Homo sapiens: one gene and its partners. The protein of the gene in region 1 interacts with the protein of each later gene in a pairwise test. Each region holds a gene or a part of one and is shown in the gene's direction. Other genes may lie near its edges.

Region 1 (7,700 bases):
TTTTCTAGCTGAAGCAGGCAAGGTAGTATCTTTGTCAACATTAAGATTTTGTTTAGATTCTGCGGAAAAATGAATTGTACAGATCATGGTTGATGTCAATGTGTTTTAACTACACACAAAACACAATTTCCAAATTTTTTTGTCTTTCTCTTTTTGTTTGTTTTTGTTTTTTGAGACAGTCTCACTGTCACCCAGCCTGGACTGCAGTGGTGTCATCTCAGCCCACTGCAACCTCTGCCTCCCAGTTTCAAGCAACTCTCCCACTTTCCTCCCTAGTAGCTGGAACCACAGGCGCACCCCACCACACCTGGCTAATTTCTGTATTTTTAGTAGAGATGGGGTTTCACCATGTTGGCCAGGCTTGTCTCGAAATCCTGAACTCATGTGATCCACCCACCTTGGCCTCACAGAGTGCCAGGATTACGAGCACGAGCCACCTTGCCCGGCCCCAAATTTCTAATTACAACTTTTGATGAAACAATATATTCTTTCCTTAGTTGTACATTTTCAAATAATTACTCATACAATTTTTTTACACATCTAACACCTTTCTGATTTTCCTAATATTCCCTGACAAGTCAAGGTAATTACCAAAAGGGAAGCTACATATCAATATAAGTATCTTGCTTAATTTTCCTGGTTATATAACAATGTAATGATGACAGCATTATTCTGTACTTGACCCTTTCATAAATCCATCAAATAAAATTTAAATATAGTTCTAGCTTCACATTTTAAAAAATGCTATAACATCTTTAAATATTGTTATTCATAACTTTAAAACTTATAAGATCACATAACCATTGTTCTTTGGTGATCTATATTACCTTTTTGTTGTTTAAATCTTTGTGATTTCTGAAAGGATACTGGTCCTTTCAATACTTCTAAAGTTTTAACATCATAAGCACCTGGAGATGGTGCACAACCTAGAGGAAATAGAAAACATTAATATATTATCTAATGTTACTTATGATCTTAAGTTAAAACATGTCATAATAAAGTGAATATAAATGTAAAAATGTCATTAACAAACTGCTTTTTTTAAATGTAAAAAATTGCATCCATTTGATATTACAAAGAAGGCCTCTCTATGAAGAACAATATCATCTTGCCCTTTATATCAACCGGGTCAAAGGAACACAGGCAACTGAGCAAACGACAGTTTTGAGATGAACATCATATATTACAGGCAATATATGGCTTTCTTACTAAGGATTGAATATAGCAAATAAAATACTTGGTGTCAACTCTACTCGAAGAGAGTCACAAAGATAACTACTATCAGTTTCTAGAAATAAAGTAATTAAAATTGTCTATCCCTCAATGTTTAGCCTAGAATAAAAATTTATAGTGATAATCCATCTCTGGCTAATATCAATACATCAGACCTATTAAAGATGTCAACTGCAATTCAAACACATGGAAGAAAAGCAACCACACTAGAGCAACTAGAATTTTTTGAGCACTTACTAAATGCCAGGCATTATGCTAAGCATTTCACAGATGTTATTTTATTTAATCCTCACAAGAATCCTGTGTGATAATTTATAGACAAAGAATGTGAGGCTTAGGAAATTCAAAAAGCCAATGTTACACAAAGTACAAATTGTACTAGACTATATTTGTATGTTCCAGAAGTTTATACTGCATAATTTCACTTAACTAAAGTCCCAGATTTGAAGGCATTTCTGAGTAAATACACATAGCAGACCTGAGATGGGGCCTTTAGGACTTAAAGTAATTAAAATACTACTAGCCTAAAGCTTTAGCTGATTGGGAACAAATAGATTAATACTATTCTCTGAAAAGCTATTTACTTCAGTCTAGAGTCTCATGCAAATAAATAGGAAGAGCAAGGAGCTTGGACCATTCCCAGGCAACTACTGCTGTCCCCTAAATGTTTGTCAAACAGTAGACAGGAACTCATGATTTTTTTTTTTTTTTTTTTTTTTTTGAGACGGAGTCTTGCTCTGTTGTCTAGGCTGGAGTGTAGTGGCGCCATCTTGGCTCACTGAAACCTTTGCCTCCTGGGTTCAAGCGATTCTCCTGCCTCAGCCTCCCGAGTAGCTGGGATTACAGGCTCCCACCACCACGCCCAGCTAGTTTTTTGTATTTTTACTAGAGACAGGGTTTCACCATGTTGGCCAGGCTGGTCTTGAACTCCTGACCTCAGCTGATCTCTCTGCCTCGGCCTCCCAAAGTGCTAGGATTACACGTGTGAACCACCAGGCCCAGCCCCATGAGTAGATCTTGATTAGCATTTTTTAAAAAGTAAAAACAATAGAAAAAGCATGACTCATATGCTGCAAAGTTAGGCATTGTTTTGTGAAACTTTTCTTTCGTATGTATGTGTAGAGATATAAAAATACATCTTAGGTTGAAATATAAATTTTGGGGGTTTTTTTGCTTTTTTTTTTTTGAAACAGAGTCTCGCACTGTCACCCAGGCTGGAGTACTGGAATATGAAAAATCACCACAGTGCCTCATACACATTAAGCATCAAATTAATAATTAGTATTATTTCTGTAACTGTGAGCCTGAAATACTATATCTTTGATAAAGCCAGTTTAACCTACTATAATGCAAACAACAAAAAAACCAAAAAAACCTTAAAGCCACACTGCTGACAAAACTTAAGAGTAGGTCCTTTGATTACTCGGGAAATCATATGGTCCTTGAGTCTTTTAACTAAGAAAATAAGTTTGTGCTGATTCACTTGCTCATTTGGCCTTCCTTTGTGAGTAGTTGTATTTTCATTCACACGTTGGCTGACAAAACTTAGAGACGTAATGAGTAACCACGAAATAGTGTATGATAGTGAATAAATCATGAGCTTTAATATTTAGCTCTACCACTTACTGATTGTGCAAGATACAAAACCTCTGTTTTCTCATCTGTAAAATGAGGTCAATATCAGTACCTTCCTCACTTGGCTTTTGGAAGGAATAAACAAGATCTAGTAGCACAGTCCCAGCATACAGCATTTTTTTTTTTTCTGTAAGACAGAGTCTTGCTCTGTCGCCCAGGCTGGAGTGCAGTGGCGCGATCTCGGCTCATCGCAAGCTCCGCCTCCCGGGTTCACGCCATTCTCCTGCCTCAGCCTGTAGTCAGCTGGGACTACAGGCGCCCGCCACCGCGCCTGGCTAATTTTTTTTGTATTTTTAGTACAGACGGGGTTTCACGGTGGTCTCGATCTCCTGACCTCGTGATCCACCTGCCTCGGCCTCCCAAAGTGCTGGGATTACAGGCGTGAGCCGCCGCGCCCGGCCGCATACAGCATCTTAAATGATGAGTGCCTACCAAACACAGCTAAGGCTTCCTGGTTACTGTGCTGTGCATTGCGGTGTTAAGAGCACACGATGGGGGCTGGGTTCATATTCCAGTCCGGTCACTTTGGTAATGTAGCACTGAGCAAATTTAAGTCTCAGTCTTTTTATCAATAAAATAATAATAGGATTACCCCTTAGAGTTGGTGGGAAATTAACATAACTAATAATCGATGTAAAGCCTTAGTACGGTGCTTGAGGTATAAGTGGTCAATATCAGCCATAACTTCATTGTTTATGTTTTCAATAAGTGCTGCTGCTCTAATTTTACACCCATAAACTGCCTTTACTAATCTTCCTTCTTTTATGCCCAAATGGAATACACAAAAGAAATGCACAAGTTCAGACTACAAGTAATACTCCAGTGTTCTTATCAGTGAGGCCCTCTCGGACTTGAAAATCAAGTAGCTACCAACGTCTCGGGTCCATTCCCTTCGCCCTGCTGTAGTTTCTCCATTACCGCTGTTTATTGACAGTATTCCCCGCCTGAATGTAAGCCCCACGGGGCGGAGACTGTTTCACTGCGGTATCCTTAGCATCCTGATTAGTGCTTGGCATGTAACAGATGCTTAGAGCATATTTGAGAAAAATCAATCAACTGAATGAGCCCCAGCCCGACCCTAAAATCGCCTCCTGCTTGCCTCCCAAGAAGGGAGCTGAAAGAGGCAAAGGGCGTTAGGGCGTCTCCCGTCCCCCAGCTCTTTCCCCCTTACGCACCAGAAGGGTCATTGAATCGTTTCAAGGGCGCCTTAGGAAAGGACATGTTGACGGCCAGCTCCAGAAACTGAAGGTGACTGGCACTCCTCGACAACTGAATGCGGATTATCACTCCCTACCGGTTTCAAATTCAAATCTCCCCACATTCCCCACCCACCCCGGCGTTAGCCAATTGGAAAGCCAAACCCCTGGGCACACCAATCCCGCACAGGAACACGAAGAAAGAATGCTGGGTTCTGATTGCGTCCAATTAGCTGGCCTGCGAGTTTAGGCTGCCATCCAATAGGAGACCGTTACTGTTCCCCGCCCCACCCACCCAGTCATTCCCGGAGTTACTCAAGTGTAACCTAGCATTTGCGCAAGCGCACTTCCCTCCGGAGACGTTAGAAAGTGCATTTTGGCGTCACTTAGGGGACGGTGTAGTGAGTTCCGGCTTCACTGGTTCCAATTCTGTCCCATTGTTCGTTGCATGTGAACTTTTCTGGATTTCAGTTCTTTCATCCGGGGCCTGCCGGTGCCGTAAACGGCCATTCAAAGGGAAAAACGAACACGCACACCAAAGCGCTAGCTTGCGTTCCTGCGCATGCGCAGTGACCCGAGCGGAGAGGCCGAGGCGTAGCCTAAGCGTGGGATTCCGCGCGTGCGCTCGGCTCCGCCTGGTGCGGCCGCGGCCGGGAGGGACTGGATTATGTCGGCCCCGTTTGAGGAGCGGAGTGGGGTGGTACCGTGCGGGACCCCGTGGGGCCAGTGGTACCAGACCTTGGAGGAGGTGTTCATTGAAGTTCAGGTGCCGCCAGGCACGCGCGCCCAGGATATCCAGTGCGGCCTCCAGAGCCGGCATGTGGCGCTGTCGGTGGGCGGCCGCGAGATCCTCAAGGTAGCGGCAGCTCGGGGCTTGTGTTCAGTTTCCTCTTCCCAGACGCCCCCAGCCCCGTTTCCCTGAACGACTGTTGGGTGTCCCGACGGCTCCTGTGGCTGGCAGAAAGAGAAAGAGGATAACACTGACCAGGTTTGGGTCTGGTCAGAGCCCCCGCCTCTTCAGGGCAGGTGCTGAGTTGTGGAAATTTGAGGAGCCTATTTTCGTGTTTAGTTTTCAAACTAAGACTGCTGCTTCTGCTTCTCTGACGGGCTTCAGCTGGGAACAGATTAACTAGGTTGCTAAAGGAACAAATATTTCTTCCGTGCACTGAAGACAGGCAGGAAGACAACAGATAACGTACCTGCAGTGGAGAGGTTAAGCTCCTGTACGGAAGCGTAATTCATAAATAGATAAATATAGGAAAGGACAACAAAGAAAATAGGGATAGAATAACGGGCAGAGAATTTAGAGATGATGTCAGGTGATTAGTTTTCTCATCTAAAAGCTTGAAAATCCTGCATGTTTGTGGAGTGGTCAAGCAGGTGGTGAAGAGGTGTGTGCATAAAATAAGTAGTACTCCTTTTATTTCTTTTCACCAATGCTCTTTGGATCTGGACCCGCTTTTTCTTTGTTAAGTGTATAATTAAACTAACAGGTTGAAATTAGATTTAGTTCTCAGGTTAGATGCCCAAGATGTTTGATGGCAGTGTAATATGGTGAAGGGAGACTACTTGTTTCCTAGTTTTGTAAACTTGGGCGAGAGATTGTTCAGTGTCTCTATATCTTCCTTATCCACAAGATAAGGTAGTTATAGTACCCTTCTCATGGGATTGTTTTGAGCTTAACATGGTATTCACGTGTATGAAGAGCTTGGAGTATTCACTGGTATGTAATAAGTTCATACTATATGTTAGCTATTAGCTATTATATATATTACAGTATATGGAGGTGCTTTGAGTGCCTCAAGATTCGTGTGAAAGACATTATGTCAGCTTGGATCTCAGTTACTTTTCTGAATTGTACAATTCATAGTTTCCTCAACAATGGTTTTAGATTACGATTATAAATTAGTAAATCCAGTAACTTTCGGAATTTAGCAGTAGCTGCTGAATTTGGGATTTCTGATGTACGTATAGACCAGTGGGATTTTTTTCTCACTAATTTTGACATATTTTAAAATGTGGGCTTTTCCTAGTGACATTTAATTTCACTTTCTATAACTTAAATTTGGCAACAAATTAAAATGGATTTGAGTTTAGGCATTCTCTCTTTAAAAAAAAATATATATTTATTGAGACAGGGTCCCTGTCTCCCATGCTGGGGTGCAGGGGTGAGATTGTAGCTCACAGCAGCCTCAAACCCATGGGGTCAAGCAATCCACGTTGGCCTCCAAAGTCCTGGGATTACAGGCCTGAGCTACTGGGCCTGGTGCAGTCTCTTTTAAATTTATATTTTGTTTATTTTTTTAAAAAACATGAGTTTGTGAACAGTTAGTCACAACTAATCTATCAAATCTGGAATACGTAAAGTTTTTTTAATGCCGATTGCCCAACAAAAAGATTAAAACGTTTTTAAAAGTTTACTTTAAAAACAACATTTTGCCGGGTGCGGTAGCTCATGCCTGTAATCCTGGCACTTTGGAAGGCCTAGGCGGGCGGATCACAAGGTCAGGAGTTCGAGACCAGCCTGGCTAACACGGGGAAACCCCATCTCTACTAAAAATACAAAAATTAGCCGGGCGTGGTGGCGGGCGCCTGTAGTCCTAGCTACTTGGGAGGTTGAGGCAGGAGAATCGCTTGAACCCTGGAGGTGGAGGTTGCAGTGAGCCAGATCGTGCCACTGCAGCCTGGGCGACAGAGCGAAACTCTGTCTCAAAAAAAAAAAAAAAAAAAAAAAAAAAGACAACATTTTTTAGTTTTAGCAGGAGATCCCTTCTTGTGGTTAATTTAAATTGGTAGAATTAAAGCATTTCAGATATTAATTTCACATTTGGCCAGTGGTCAGTATTACTGTATCTTCTAAAAATTAAGGAGCCCTGATCTTTCTTTAGAGAGCTCTGTGTTCTTTGCCATAGTAAATATCCCTTGCAGTGTAAACTAGTTTCCATTTTACCTGCTGGGAGAAAATTTAGGGTTGTGCACCTATAAATGTCATGGTGAAGTGGTGGTATAAGATGTGGATTAGGTAGGAAAGTAGGTAAATCTTAATCATGAAAACTTTATAAAAATTAAATTCTGTATTTTTAGCACCTTATATGTTTATTTTTCAGGGCAAACTCTTTGATTCTACAATAGCTGATGAGGGAACATGGACTTTGGGTAAGGGTAATTACTATAATTCATCAAATTAAAATAATTTTGTCTTGATATCTTTTCCTCTTTTGTATTAGGTCTTTTTTGTCTTTGCAGCTTTGAAAGATAAAGCAATAGAAATGTGTTGAAAACCGTTGTATGTCAAAGTTACCTAGTGGGGGGAGAAAAAATTAGTTAGTTGTTTTTGGAAATATAAAATTTAATGAAGAACTTCTTGAGACCACCCTGGCCAACATGGCAAAACCCCGTTTATACTAAAAATACAAAAGTTAGCCGGGCATGGTGGCGCATGCCTGTATTCCCAGCTAGTCGGGAGGCTGAGGCAGGAGAATCACTTGAACCCGGGGGGCGGAGGTTTCAGTGAGCCGAGATCAAGCCGCTGCACTCCAGCCTGGGTGAGAGTGATACTGTCTCAAAAAAAAAAAAAACAACTTGATGAAGAACTCTAATTTATTTGTGCGTGTGTGTGTGTGTGTTTTTTTTTTA
Region 2 (6,957 bases), on another chromosome or scaffold:
TCCAGGGACACCAGCTGGCACGCCGCCTCGGGCACCTCGGGAAACCGGTTCCGGGACAGGTCTGGGGAAAAGGAGGTGTCGGGGAGAGTTGCGGAAAGGCCCAGCCCGGACAGGACCTTCAGTCCCCCCAGAGCCGGCTGCCCACTCCCTCACCTCCACACCTAAAGATTCAAGGCCATCAATGTGGCCTCCCAGGAGAGATAACAAAGCCTTCTGCCAACGGGAGCACATTCCAGGCGTGACCAGAATGGCACAGGGAAGGCAAAGGCCTTAGCGTCACTGGGCTAGAGAAGCCTCAGACTTGGGGGTTGGGGAATGTCAATGGAGGGCTATCCTGGAGAGCAGCTGGAATCTCTAACTCCTGTGGTTCCTGTTCAGAGATGCCAGGTGAGGCGGAGGACCGAAGGTGAGAGGAGGGGTCAGTGCTCATGGGAAAACAGTAAGGCGAGGGGCTGGGGGGCTCCCGGAGGGAAGATGGGAAACCCCTGGGGCAAACCACAGGGAGTGCCCATCCCTCCTCGGGGCCCTTCTTCCCTACTCCAGTGTGTTTTCAACACGGGAAAAACCACAGGTCACTCTATCTTGGTTCTAGAGATAAAGTCCCCGACACCGGACGAGTTTTTCGCCAGCCCCAAGGACCAGCAAGCCAGGTCCAAAGAATCATAAAGTTACTGATTCCCAAGGGCTGGGAGGGAAGGGCAAGAAGACCTGGTTGGAGATGGGAGCTGGAGTTCCCAGGTCCCTCCCATCTGGGCTTCTCTGGCCCAGGGCAGGCATCCTTCCTACCCTCTGCTAGCCCTAGCAGCCCGGCTCTGCTTCCTCTCTTACTGACACAGACTTCAAGAGATCAGCAACTGTGTGAGCATCTCAGGCACGGCGAGGGTGGAGAGTGTGGGAGGGCCTGGGGTCTACAATCGCCCTCTTATCTGGAGCACTGCCTTGCTATGCGGAGGCTGGCAGCCTTGGGATTCCCTGTAGCACGGACCCACTAACGGCTTAGACCTGGAGAAGCCTGCCTTTCTGTTTCCTCGGCCCAGCCTGTCCTGGGAGGGGCCCAGGGCCCGCGAGGCGGAGTCCCAGGCCACAGACCTGGTGAGCTTCTCCAAGGGCCCTTCTCAGGGAAGGGCAGGCCAGCAAAAGCAAGCAGAGGAGAGAAGCCGGGTATATCCCCCAAGGAAATGAGTCTTGTGACAGGAAATGAAGTAGAAACAATCTGTCAGGTTCTGGCTCTGGTAGGCCCCGTGTTTACCAGGGTGGATGACAGCCTGATGCCCCGGGACCCCTTTCTCTTCCTCTCTGCCCAGCCCTGGTGCACAGACAGAAGCCCTGGCCTCAGAGATGACCGTTCTGGAGAGGGTGGGGGGATGGCATTTGCCCCTCCCAGCCTCGCCTCCACCTGCCCGCTTTCTCTGCAAATGTGTTTGTGTGTGTGCATGTGGACGAAGGGGGTGGAGACCGAGTTCTCAGAGTTCTGATGGGGTAGGCGGTGGCGGGGACAAAAGCTAGGAGCGGAAGGGAGCTCAGGCAGGAGGCAGGGCACTGGGGGCACAGGATGTGGTCTGGGAGAGAATGAGCTGCACTTCTCCTTTGCAAGATGGCCCCTCCCCGCCACCTCAGGATTCTTCCTACTATCACCCCAGGGAGCCTAGTCCAAGGGAGATCAGGGACCCAAGACTAGGCGACACGCAGCGAAGACACTCAGAAAGAGATGGGAGACGGGAGGGGAAGGCTCAAGGCAGTCCGGGCAGCAAGGCACTGATGCTTTTCGTCTGCTTGGAGGGCGAGGAGAGATGGAGGGCAGGGTATGGGCAACTGTATGTTTTTGTCACTTCCCCTTTCTGTCCCTGCTTGCGGAGAGGGGACAGAGGAGAGAATTCTGGACAAGAGGGACCCCACTTGGCCTAGAACCTGGGCCCTGTGTAGAGAGTGGGGCAGAGGAGGGTTCTTGGGAAGCTGGGATTTCCGACCCCCCCCCAAGCTCACAGGAGCACGGCTGCACCCTGAGCCGGAATGCTGGGGGAGGAGGGGGCCGGGGGCGGGAGCTGGGAGGGGCCGGGGAGCTCCGGGTAGTTTTCCCCAAGAGTCCACACAGGGAGAGACAGCCTAAGGAAGTAAAGAATAACATTTGGTCTTTGTCAAAAAACAACCAAGGGGGAGGGGAAGGGAACAGACAGTGAGTGTCACACAGCTGCTGAGGTCAATCTGGAGTGTGGGGTTAGGTGGGGGTGGGAGGGAACAGGGCTGTAAGGGGCAGGAATGGCTCCTGGAGCTCACTCATTCCCCATCTCAAGTGTTGCAGAGCAGGCGAGATCAGTGGGGAGGTTTCGACTGGTTCTCCCCAGAAGAGGGAAGAGGATGTGTGCCAGTGCCGGCCTGAGTGTTCCCAGGTGAGCAGGCACCTGCTTAGGGAGAAGTAAGCACTATCCTCCAGCTCTGGTCCCCCACCGTGCAGATGAGAGGAGGAAGAGGCCTGGGCTGGGGTGAGGCTTCGGGAATGCAGTCCTCCTCCCTGATCCTGATCCCCACCCCCAGCTGCCGGCCCAAGGTCATAGGCTGCCTCCTGAGTAGCTGAGGCTTGACTCACCTGTCACAGTTAAGTCCCCCACCCCCTACCATCCACAGACACCAGGGTGGAGGGTGCATGGTTGGACAGATCCTGCGGGTGGAGGCGTGGAAGGACAGTCTCTAGCTGGCCAGCACTCCCAGCTAGGAGATAAGATTTCCTTCCCTCCAGCAACGGCCTCAAGTCCCTCCCCCGGGGGAAAGCAGAAACTGAAATGGGAATTCTAAGATCCCTATGAGGTCACAGGCTCCACAGTGACCTCACAGGCTTAGGAAGGAGGAGGAGGAATCTCAGATAAGCCGGTTGGGGATAATAGGCGGAAGAGCTCAGGGAGAAAAGAGTGAGGGGAGGTAGAGATTTGTTTCTTTCCCATAGGCTGGAGAGCTGCGTGGACAGTGGAGAGGGCCAGGACCTTAGGGGGCGGGGTTGCGGCACAGAAAGCAGAAACCTCGGGCTTAGGGGCCAGTCACTGGGAAGGGGGTGCCCGGGGCTGCTCGGATCTCGGTGGGACGGGGGTTAAGAGGTGTAGATGAAGAGGGAGAGAAAGCAGTTATTAGAGGAGCTCGTGGGGACTGCTTCATAGACCGATTGGAGCTGAGGTTAAGAGATCATGTAAATAAGCCAACCAGGTGAGGGGCGGGACCATCCTACAGGTGCGCAGATATGCAAATAAAGAGAAAGGAGGAATCTCTCCCAACGCTCGGAGGCGCAGGGCGTTCTGTGCAAACGAGAAGCACGTTCATTGTCTAGGGGGTTCTCAAAGATGGGAGAGGATGGCTGCAGGTTTAGGGCAATCAGGAGGGGCAGCAACCCTGGCCGCCAGGTGAAGGGGCGGGCCCGACTCCCGGGCCGGGCGGGGCCCGGGGTGGGGCTATGCAAATGAGGGACCCGGTTGGGCCCGGGGCCCGGCTGCACTCACCAGCCTGGGTGATGTCTGACAGGTCGTAGCTACGGGCCGCGCCCCGGGGGAAGTGCTTCAAGCGCCGGTTAGACAGGTTCAGGGTCCCGGTGGCCACGGCCTCCTCTAGGGCCCGCTCTGCACTGCGTCTCCCCGGCAGACCTGGAGACCCGGGCACGGAGGTCGTGGCTGCCGCCTCCTCACCCCCGGCGGCGAGTGGAGCCGCTACGGCCGCCGCCATCCGCTCCCGGCGGCTCCCGCTGCCTGACTGACGGGACCGGCCGTCCCTCCTTCCCCCACCCCCTCCTTGGAGCCGCCGTAGTTGCCTCAAGGGGGAGGGAGCGGTGTCCGGGACCGGACGGACCAATCGTGGCCCCGAGACGCGTCAGAAGCGGCCAATCAGAACCCGTCAGTGGGGGTGGAGCTCCGGCGCCGGAGTCTGACGAGAGAAGGGAGGGGAACAAGGATAGAGCGCTCGCCAACGGCCGACGCTCCAGGCCGTCCCGCCCAGCGCAGCTGCACCCAATCACAATGCTCAGATCGGGAGGTGGAGCCAATCAGGTCCAACCAAGAGGAGGGGACACCGGCACTCCACTAGCAGGAAAACGGGCCGAGGGACCGCAAGCAGGGGGTGCCTAGTCCTCGTCCCCCAAAGACCAATCGTAAGCCAGATACAGGCGAGTGACTGTCAAGAAGGCCAATTAGAGCCTCCGAAGGGAATCTGGACCTGCCTCTTCTCTGAGGGACGGCTCTACCTACCAATAGCATGGGCGAGAAGGCGGTCCCTTTGCTAAGGAGGAGGCGGGTGAGCTAGAACTTTAAGACTGAGGTTAAGAATGAACGCGGAGCCCCTGGCCGGCCGGGAACGCAGTTCGCCGCTGCAGTGGCGAGTGCGAGCTGGACGTGTTAGGGGGCTAGCCGGCGTCCAGGGCTTGAGGGGATTCGGGCGACTGCTTGAGGCCAGTGCACTGGCGGTTGTCGCAGCTGAAGGGGCAGCGGGGGGACCTCCGACTGTGAAGCCTCTGGCAGGGGTCTCGGGACCCCCGGGCTGGGGGCGGGCGGGGGGCTTCCCAGAGCCTGGAGATGCCCAGCTCGAGGAGGGAGGGTGTAGGTGCAGCGTTGCACGGTCTGCCGTCTCACCCGAGGAGCTCCCCTGGACAGGAATGGAGAGGGGACCAGACCACGGGGTTTTAGAGGCTTAGAAAGGATCTCACCGCCTAGAACACGCCCTTGGTGCTACGAATGCAGAAACTGAGGCAGAGGGAAGTTGATGCGTTAGCAAGAGCGAACAGCAAGTTCCTGACAGCTGGCTTGCTCTAGAAACCAGGTCTCTGGATCCTCCACGCACAGCCCTTTCCCGCTCCCTCAGTTTTCACAGTGGATGTTTTCACTCCCTTCCTCTCTTCCTCCCTCCCTCCCTCTCCCTTCCGTTCCCTTCCTCTTTTTATTTTTTTATTTTTTGAGATGGAGTCTCGCTCAGTCGCCCAGGCTGGAGTGCAGTGGCGCGATCTCGGCTCACAGCAACCTCCACTGTCCGGGTTCAAGCAATTCTCCTGCCTCAGCCTCCCGAGTAGCTGGGACTACAGGCGCCCGCCACCACACCCGGCTAATTTTTTGTATTTTAGTAGAGACGGGGTTTCACCGTGTTGCCCAGGCTGGTCGCAAACTCAGGAGCTCAGGCAATATGCCCTCCTCGGCCTCCCAAAGTGCTGGCATTACAGGCGTGAGCCACCGCGCCCGGCCTTTTTTTTTTTTTTTTTAAGAAGGTCTGATTCTGTCGCCCAGGCTGGAGTGCAGTGGTGCAGTCATGGCTCACTGCAGCCTTGAATGCCTGGGCTCAAGTGATCCTCCTGCCTCAGCCTCCCAAGTAGCTGGGACCACGGGCGGCACCACTGCACCTGGCTAATTTATTTTCAATTTTTGTAGAGATGGGGTTTTGCTATGTTGCCCAGGCTGGTCTCAAACTTTTGACCTCAAGCGATCCTGCCTCTGCCTCCCAAAGTACTGGGATCACAGGCGTGAGCCACCGCACCCGGCCCACAGTGGACTTTTTCTTTCTTTTGAGACAGAGTCGCTCTGTTGCCCAGGCTGGAGTGCAGTGGCTTGATCGCAGCTCACTGCAGCCTCAACCTCCCACCTCAGCCTCCCGAGTAACTGGGACTACAAGCACGCACCACCATGCCAGCTAATTGTATTTTTTGTAGAGACAGGGTCCTACTATGTTGCCCAGGCTGATCTCAAACTCCTGGGCTCAAGCAATGCTCCCACCTCGGCCTCCCGAAGTGCTGGGATTATAAGCGTGAGCCACAAAGCCTGGCCCACAGTGGACTTTTTCTATTCACAACCTCTCGTTTGCCTCCTGGGGTGAAATGGAGTGGATAAAGGGGACCCAAATGCAAGAGGAATGGAAAATACCTTTCTGTCTACTTGGAGATCTTCCTTTCTAAGTGGCATGAGTCCCTAATGCAGTCCCCTCCCTATGTGGTAGGTTGCCCAGAAATAAGTCACTGAAGTTGCTTTCTCCTTAGTTCACATCTCAGAGGTTGATATTCCTGAGTAGTTGCTGAAGAATTAAAATTCCATCTCAGGCATCCCAGCCTAGCCATGGCTAGGCACCATACATAAGGGAATTTGGGTGGTCAGTCTGGTGCAGTCAATGAACGGATCTGTGACACTGTGTGGTGAGGGCTGGTGGTCTGGCAGGATGGGACTCCTTTGAGCCCCTGCAAGAGCCAGCCACTCCTTGGATTTATTGGTGTAGATCTGGCCTGAGTGGGACAGACACAACCCTGACCCCTGCTGTTTCTCCTGATAAATGTCACCCCACATAAGACAAAGCTAATATCAGAGACCCTGGGAGAAATCCTAAGCTTTCAGAGGAAATCCATCCCTTTCTCCCACCTTAATAGGTTGTCCTTTATACATGCAATGATGTTACTGTCCCTCAGGAAAGCAAAAGCAGTCTTCTTTTTTGTTTGTTTTTTTTGAAACTGGGTATCATTCTCGCCCGGGCTGGAGTGCAGTGGCACGATCATAGCTCACTGCTGCCTCAAACTGGGCTCAAGCAATCCTCCTGCCTCAGCCTCCTGTGTAGCTGGGACTACAGGGGTGCATCACCACGCCTGGGTAATTTTTAAGTTTTTTTTTTTTTTTAATAGACGCAGGGTCTATGTTGACCAGGCTGGTCTTGAAACCCATGGCCTCAAGCCATCCTTGCACCATGGCCACCCAAAAGTGCTGGGATTTCGGGCGTTAGCCACCGGCACCAGGCTGCAGTCTCCTTTTGGATGTGTTTTTTCACAAGTCTAAAGAGTTTGCTGAATCATTTGTGAGCTAAACGATTATTAGCACAGTCACCTCTCCATCTCACCTGTCAAACTGAGTTTATAGTTTTTTGAGTCTATACTCTTGAGCTACCAATCCCTAGAGGCCTTGGCCTGCTGAAATGTGAGGAATTCACTAGTGTTTCTCTACAGAGTTAGTGCTAAAAGGGCCT
Region 3 (5,490 bases), on another chromosome or scaffold:
CTTTCCCACTGGCAGGTGTATACTATCAGATACTAGAAACTCAGAAAATTGTATTTGATTTGAGTAAACATCCTCACTATCATCTGGACTTGAATCTGGAATTTAAGAGAGTGAATACAGTCAAGTATAATAAATGCACTAAAGTATAATGGACCAAAGCCTGCGTAAGGTGGGCTAATACCTGCCTCACAGGATTGGTTCAAGGATTAGGCACAAATACGGAGCATTTATGCCATGCCTGGAACATCGTGTTCAGTAAATGGATATGGCGAGACTGTGTATTGTTAGATTTGAGCCCTGCTGTGCCTTAGTCCCAGCTACTCAGGAGGCTGAGGCTGGAGGATTGCTTGAGCCCAGGAGTTCTGGGTTACAGTGTGCTGTGCTGATGGGATGTTTGCACTAAGTGCAGCATCAATATGGTGACCTCCTGGGAACAGGAGACTCCCAGGTTGCCTAAGGAGGGGTGACCTGGCCCAGGTCAGAAACAGAGCAGGTCAAAACTCCCTTGCTGATCAGTAGTGGGATCGCACCTTTGAACAGCCACTGCACTCCAGCCTGGGCAACATAGTGAGACCCTGCCTTTGAAAAAAGAAGAAAAAGGATTTGAGCCCCATTTGGGATGGGCCAAAGAGGAACAGGCGTTTTTATTGAGATGTTAATACAGGATTTGATCATTGAGTCTCAACTTCCCTAACTGAATTGGCAAACTAGATACCTTCTTGGGTTATGGTATATTAGAGAAACACGAAAACTACTGGCATTTGGACTTTCTTAGAATTTTGTGGCTCATTAAAAATTGTATCTGGCTCAGTGTGATGGAGGGTTGGGACCGGGCAGGGTCTTGCTCTGTCACCCAGGCTGGAGTGCAGTGGTGCAGTCATGGCTCGCTGCAGCCTCGACTTCCCAGCTCAAACAGTTCTGCATCAGTCTCCCGAGTAGCTGGGACTACAGGCACACACTACCATGCCCGGCTAATTTTTTTTTTAATTTTGTATTTTGTAGAGAGGGGGTCTCACTATGTTTGTTGTCCAGGCTTACGTGTGAGTTTTAAATAAACCATTTCTTTTTCTTTCAGATTTCCACAAGACGGCACCCTATGTCGTCACTGGCAGCGTAGATCAAACAGTAAAAGTGTGGGAGTGCCGTTGATTGTGTCTCCTTCGGCCCCTCCTCCCTCTTTTCCTCTGGATGCACTCTGATGATACCATGGTTACCCCATTGAGCTCTGTTTAAATAAATATTGTCCTTTCATGTAAATTATTCTGGATGTAGATTGAGCTTATTAAATGTTACACACAAAGTATTCATGCATGGTGAATCCAAATTGTATACTGTAAATTTACATACGTTGTCTAGAAGTACCATAGGGTTTAAAAACCTGGGCTGGCATTGGTCACACCAGGCCTAAGAAGGCAGAAGTTGAATCAATTGAACTAGGGCACTAAACTGAATAGTTGACAGTGTCATTTTATGTTGGATTATTAATTCCTGTTTTTCTTTCTGCTATCTGTTGGTGCCTGACTTGATGGCCTCATTTGGGGAAAAGTGGTGGTTATTAGGGCTTTTTCTGAAATGTGTATCTATGTAACATCACTTAAGTGTGCTTAATAAATCTTCTGTAAGGATTTTAGATGATAAGGCTACAATTCAGAATCTTCTGAACCATCTATGTAATGAATGGGGATTATACATTGGAATTTTTGTCATGACACATTTGCCAAATCAGTAGGATATATTTGTTTTGGCAGCCTATCACGCAGAGGCTAGTGGTATATTTATGTAAGAAAATGACTGTAAATCTCAAGAAAAATCTCAGCAGCTAATAGCAACTCATTTATTTCATTTTGGTCTTAATGCTTTGTAAACAGGTCAAAAAATACTGTCATACTCTAAGCTTCTATTTTCCACACTGGACATACTTCTAGTTGTATTCTCCATACTATTAGACTGTGTAGTGATGTGACTTCCAAGTAGAATTTAATCTCCCCATTGAGTGTGTCATGGTACAAATCACTATTCGTTTTTGGTGTTTTTTAGGGATGTGCAATGTGCATTACATAATGACAGAAATACTGAGAAGGTTCTGTGTGCCCATTTGAAAGGAGTGGGAGGAATACAGCAGTTTGTTTTTCAACATGAATCTGATATTGATTTAAACTGTGTTTCACTTACAAGTTTTAAAAAAATGACAGGGTTTAATGGAGCGTGCATAAAAATGTACTGTTTTCACCTTTTGTTTATATGTAAATGTTTGTAAGTATATGGGCCTATCTGTAAGTGGATAAGTCTGTATGTGTGTATCATACACATCAACCTCCATGTCCTTAGTCCTGGGTTTTTGAAAAAGTGCTAAAACGGACAAGTAGAATAAATGTTGCTGTGGAATGCCATGCTTTAGAACAAACCCTTTTTGATCTTAATGCTTCTGAAAACTAGGTCTGACTCTGGGGATTTTTTTCCAGCCGAAGGAAAATCACTTCCGTTATGTCCCCCTCTAATTTAGCCGCTCGACATTTTACACAACCCGGATATGTTGTATATTTTGACCCAAAGTTACAGGTAGGTTTAAGAGAATTTTTAGCCATGACTTTTGGAGCACTATTCCATTGTCAGTTATTAATAAAGAATTCCATTGCTTAGCTAACCAACAGGTTTTTTTTGTTTCCAAGAGAGTTATTTGAAAAGTTAACAGAACAATGAGATAACAGTGACAGTTTAACAAAGATAAAATTCTGAACTGCGTTTTATTCATTTGTGTACTATGTGATTTTTTAAATGTCCCCTTTAGTATTTAATGGAAAATTGGTTCCTGCAAAAGACAAAGGGTGAGAGTTAGCGTCCTGTAGATACACACAGAGACTAGGCCGTATATTAACTAGAAGCAGCTTTATGTCTAGCTTGTGTCTTTTTGTTTGTTTGCTTGTTTGTTTTTAGATTCCTGAGAGATGTCTCTGGAAGGGAAAGTTTTGAGAACTAATGGCTATTTTTGAGGACAAAAATTACATCTTAAGCTAATTCCTTAAATACATACAGTAGGTGAATTTTCAGGACAATATTGCCTCACAACCCTGCTTACATTGAAAAGTCTTTTTCCCTTAGCTCTTCTGACTGGATTTTTCTACAAAAACTATGGAAAATATCTTTGTTCTTGTTTGCTGCTATTTTCTGTCCTATTTTGAGAAATATAAATACATAGAAATGGTGCATCTTAACATTTGTTTGTACATGTATAAATGTCTTGTATTTTAATTCATTTTTAGCATGAATTGTTTAAGGGTAAGCCACAACATCTAGAAATCACTCATAGATATTGAACAATAAAGGAGAATGGTACCGATGCAGGAGGAAGCAAGCGTGTCTTCCCCTGCAGCACACAGCGACTTGCGTTGACAAAGGAGGAGGAAACGATTACTCTGTAAACAAAGTTATCCTTACTTGGGAGATTGCCACAGCCTGCTGCTGAGTTGAGTTACCAGACATCCTCCATGTGAGAAGCAGCGAACATTGAATCTCAGGGATGGCCCACAACTGGGTCCACATGTAATGAGCCCTGTTTAATAACGAAGGGGTGGGGGAGAGCAGTCCGTCTACAACCTGGAATCAGATTTGCAAAATTTCCTGCACTGCTGTCTGACACTGTCCTGTTGATGCCCTTTCTGACTGTGTTCTCTGTTTTCTCTGTCTGCTGTCTAACCCTGTGCCTTGCCTGGGATAAGGACAATGATGAGGTTACTGGTTTGGATTGTAAGTAGAGGACTTTTATTAATTGGTTTAGAGGTTCACTGCTGCTTTGTCACTTTCTCAATCAAATTGGCCACTTAAGAAATAAAGAGCTGGTAGAATTGCATCCTCAGATGATTATTGACTGTGTGTGTGTGTGAAAACAGACATTCCAGTGCCACCCAAATATATATCTGTAACGTGCCCAAGAAATCCTAGCTGCGCTCTTGAGAGTGCATGCCATGGAGACTGGTTTAGACACCGCGTGGAGCCTAGTTGCCTGTTGTCACGGCATCTTGCACTTTAGGAGACTAAGACCGTCCTGGTTCGTCTGTGTGTGGTGTGACCAATGGTGTGCCCAGAGCACTACTCTCAAAATCACTAGTGTTAGCAAGTCGTCCCGGGCTGGGGAGCGTTCGCCGTAGTCTTTGGAAGCTTTGGCTTTAGATTTACCAAGCCCCGCCTCCCCGCTGCCAGTGCCCTGCTCTCCCGTTCGCCTCTTTCTGTTTCTGTGTGAACTTTCCCGGTAATATCACTCGTTAAATAGGTTTTCTTTAAACTTAATTAAAGAAAAACTATTTAAAGGTAAAGGATATTTTGTTGACATCGGTGGCTCGATCATCCTTAAGCAACTGAAGTTAAAATTGTTGAAGGAAAAGGCACTTAAATTGGTTACTTTCATGTCCAGCTGTATATAAGTCCAGTGTGTTCATCTAGATGACGCAAAGAATCTCCTGGTAGAGAAGCGACATGTAAAAAACTGGTGGAAAAAGGTTTTGGATTTTTTTTCCAGTGGGGTGGGGGGAGGGCAAGCTGGATTTACAGGTCACGGCTGGACTGAATGGGCCTTTTTATCTTCCCACTGTATCATGGAAGTAGCTGCTTGCTTGTACTGTCCATCCTTCAGGCATCCCTAAAGCTCACTCTGAAGATGTTAGAGACAAACACAAACTCTTCGAGTTAAAGTTGATCCTGACACTGACATGAAGGCAAGCCTTGATTTCGTATGAACGTTGCTGAAGTGGTAATTGAGGAAAACAGTTCCCCAGATTGTTAAGAGTTCACTGAAGATATTGACACAATTTTAAAAAATCAGTAAAGGAATGTATATAATATTGCTCTCGTGTTTTACAGTAAGATTTGTTGCTCTCAGACTGTGTAAAACAAAATTTATTCATGTTTTCTGCATATTAAAAAATCTTATTGTACCAACTGGTAAACTATTAAATGCCTATAAAACTAGATGTGATTTTTTTTTTTTTTTTTTTTTTTTTTTTTGTCTTCCTTTGCACAGGGGAAATGCTGATAGAAAGTGGGGCTGTGTGTAGCTCCAGTCACAAAGAGTGACACGAATCGGTGTCAGGGCAGTAAGGCCTCATGAGCTGCTTTCCTTCAGGGCAGCACCCGAACTGGCTTTGCTGTCCCCCTTCCCCCGGGTGGAGGAGGGAGTGCCTCAGCCTGAGCCTTGCCATGGCATGCGTCTGCGGCACAGGCCCGCTCTCCCCAACCCTCCCAGCAGCCCGTTCTGACTGTGGCTATCGCTGTGGCCAGAGAGCCAAAGCCAGGATGGCTGGTTACAGGCCCAAGACTAGACTCTTGGGGACAGAGTCTAGAGATAAGGGGCCCTGCCGGGCGCGGTGGCTCACGCCTGTAATCCCAGCTCTTGGGGAGGCAGAGACGGGAGGATAGCTTGAGCCCAGGAGTTCGGGACCTCCCTGGGCAATATAGCGAGACCCCGTTCTCCACAAAAAGGAAAAAAAAAAGATGGGG

What was found. Proteins that work in one complex are often made in the same cells at the same time.
Region 2: the proteins of NUDCD2 (region 1) and FBXO24 interact in binary tests that used the Homo sapiens proteins (3 or more experiments, as listed by UniProt).
Region 3: the proteins of NUDCD2 (region 1) and PAFAH1B1 interact in binary tests that used the Homo sapiens proteins (3 or more experiments, as listed by UniProt).

What each region holds. Positions count from the first base shown.
Region 1 is NC_000005.10:163,457,082-163,464,781, reverse strand, and holds the start of NUDCD2 (nudC domain-containing protein 2), read left to right. Parts: upstream 1-4,679; 5' UTR 4,680-4,731; coding exon 4,732-4,920; exon of another isoform or gene 4,921-5,748; coding exon of another isoform or gene 5,749-5,787; intron 5,788-7,141; exon of another isoform or gene 7,142-7,171; coding exon 7,172-7,220; exon of another isoform or gene 7,221-7,365; intron 7,366-7,700. Other genes in the region: HMMR (hyaluronan mediated motility receptor), read right to left, coding at 1-59, 828-926, 4,044-4,089. UniProt on the Homo sapiens protein: May regulate the LIS1/dynein pathway by stabilizing LIS1 with Hsp90 chaperone.
Region 2 is NC_000007.14:100,582,399-100,589,355, forward strand, and holds the start of FBXO24 (F-box only protein 24), read left to right. Parts: upstream 1-3,929; 5' UTR 3,930-4,227; coding exon 4,228-4,266; intron 4,267-4,287; exon of another isoform or gene 4,288-4,297; coding exon of another isoform or gene 4,298-4,351; intron 4,352-4,573; exon of another isoform or gene 4,574-4,788; intron 4,789-6,957. Other genes in the region: LRCH4 (leucine-rich repeat and calponin homology domain-containing protein 4), read right to left, coding at 1-61, 3,483-3,702. UniProt on the Homo sapiens protein: Substrate-recognition component of the SCF (SKP1-CUL1-F-box protein)-type E3 ubiquitin ligase complex.
Region 3 is NC_000017.11:2,680,654-2,686,143, forward strand, and holds the end of PAFAH1B1 (platelet-activating factor acetylhydrolase IB subunit beta), read left to right. Parts: intron 1-302; exon of another isoform or gene 303-581; intron 582-1,075; coding exon 1,076-1,149; 3' UTR 1,150-4,962; downstream 4,963-5,490. UniProt on the Homo sapiens protein: Regulatory subunit (beta subunit) of the cytosolic type I platelet-activating factor (PAF) acetylhydrolase (PAF-AH (I)), an enzyme that catalyzes the hydrolyze of the acetyl group at the sn-2 position of PAF and its analogs and participates in PAF inactivation.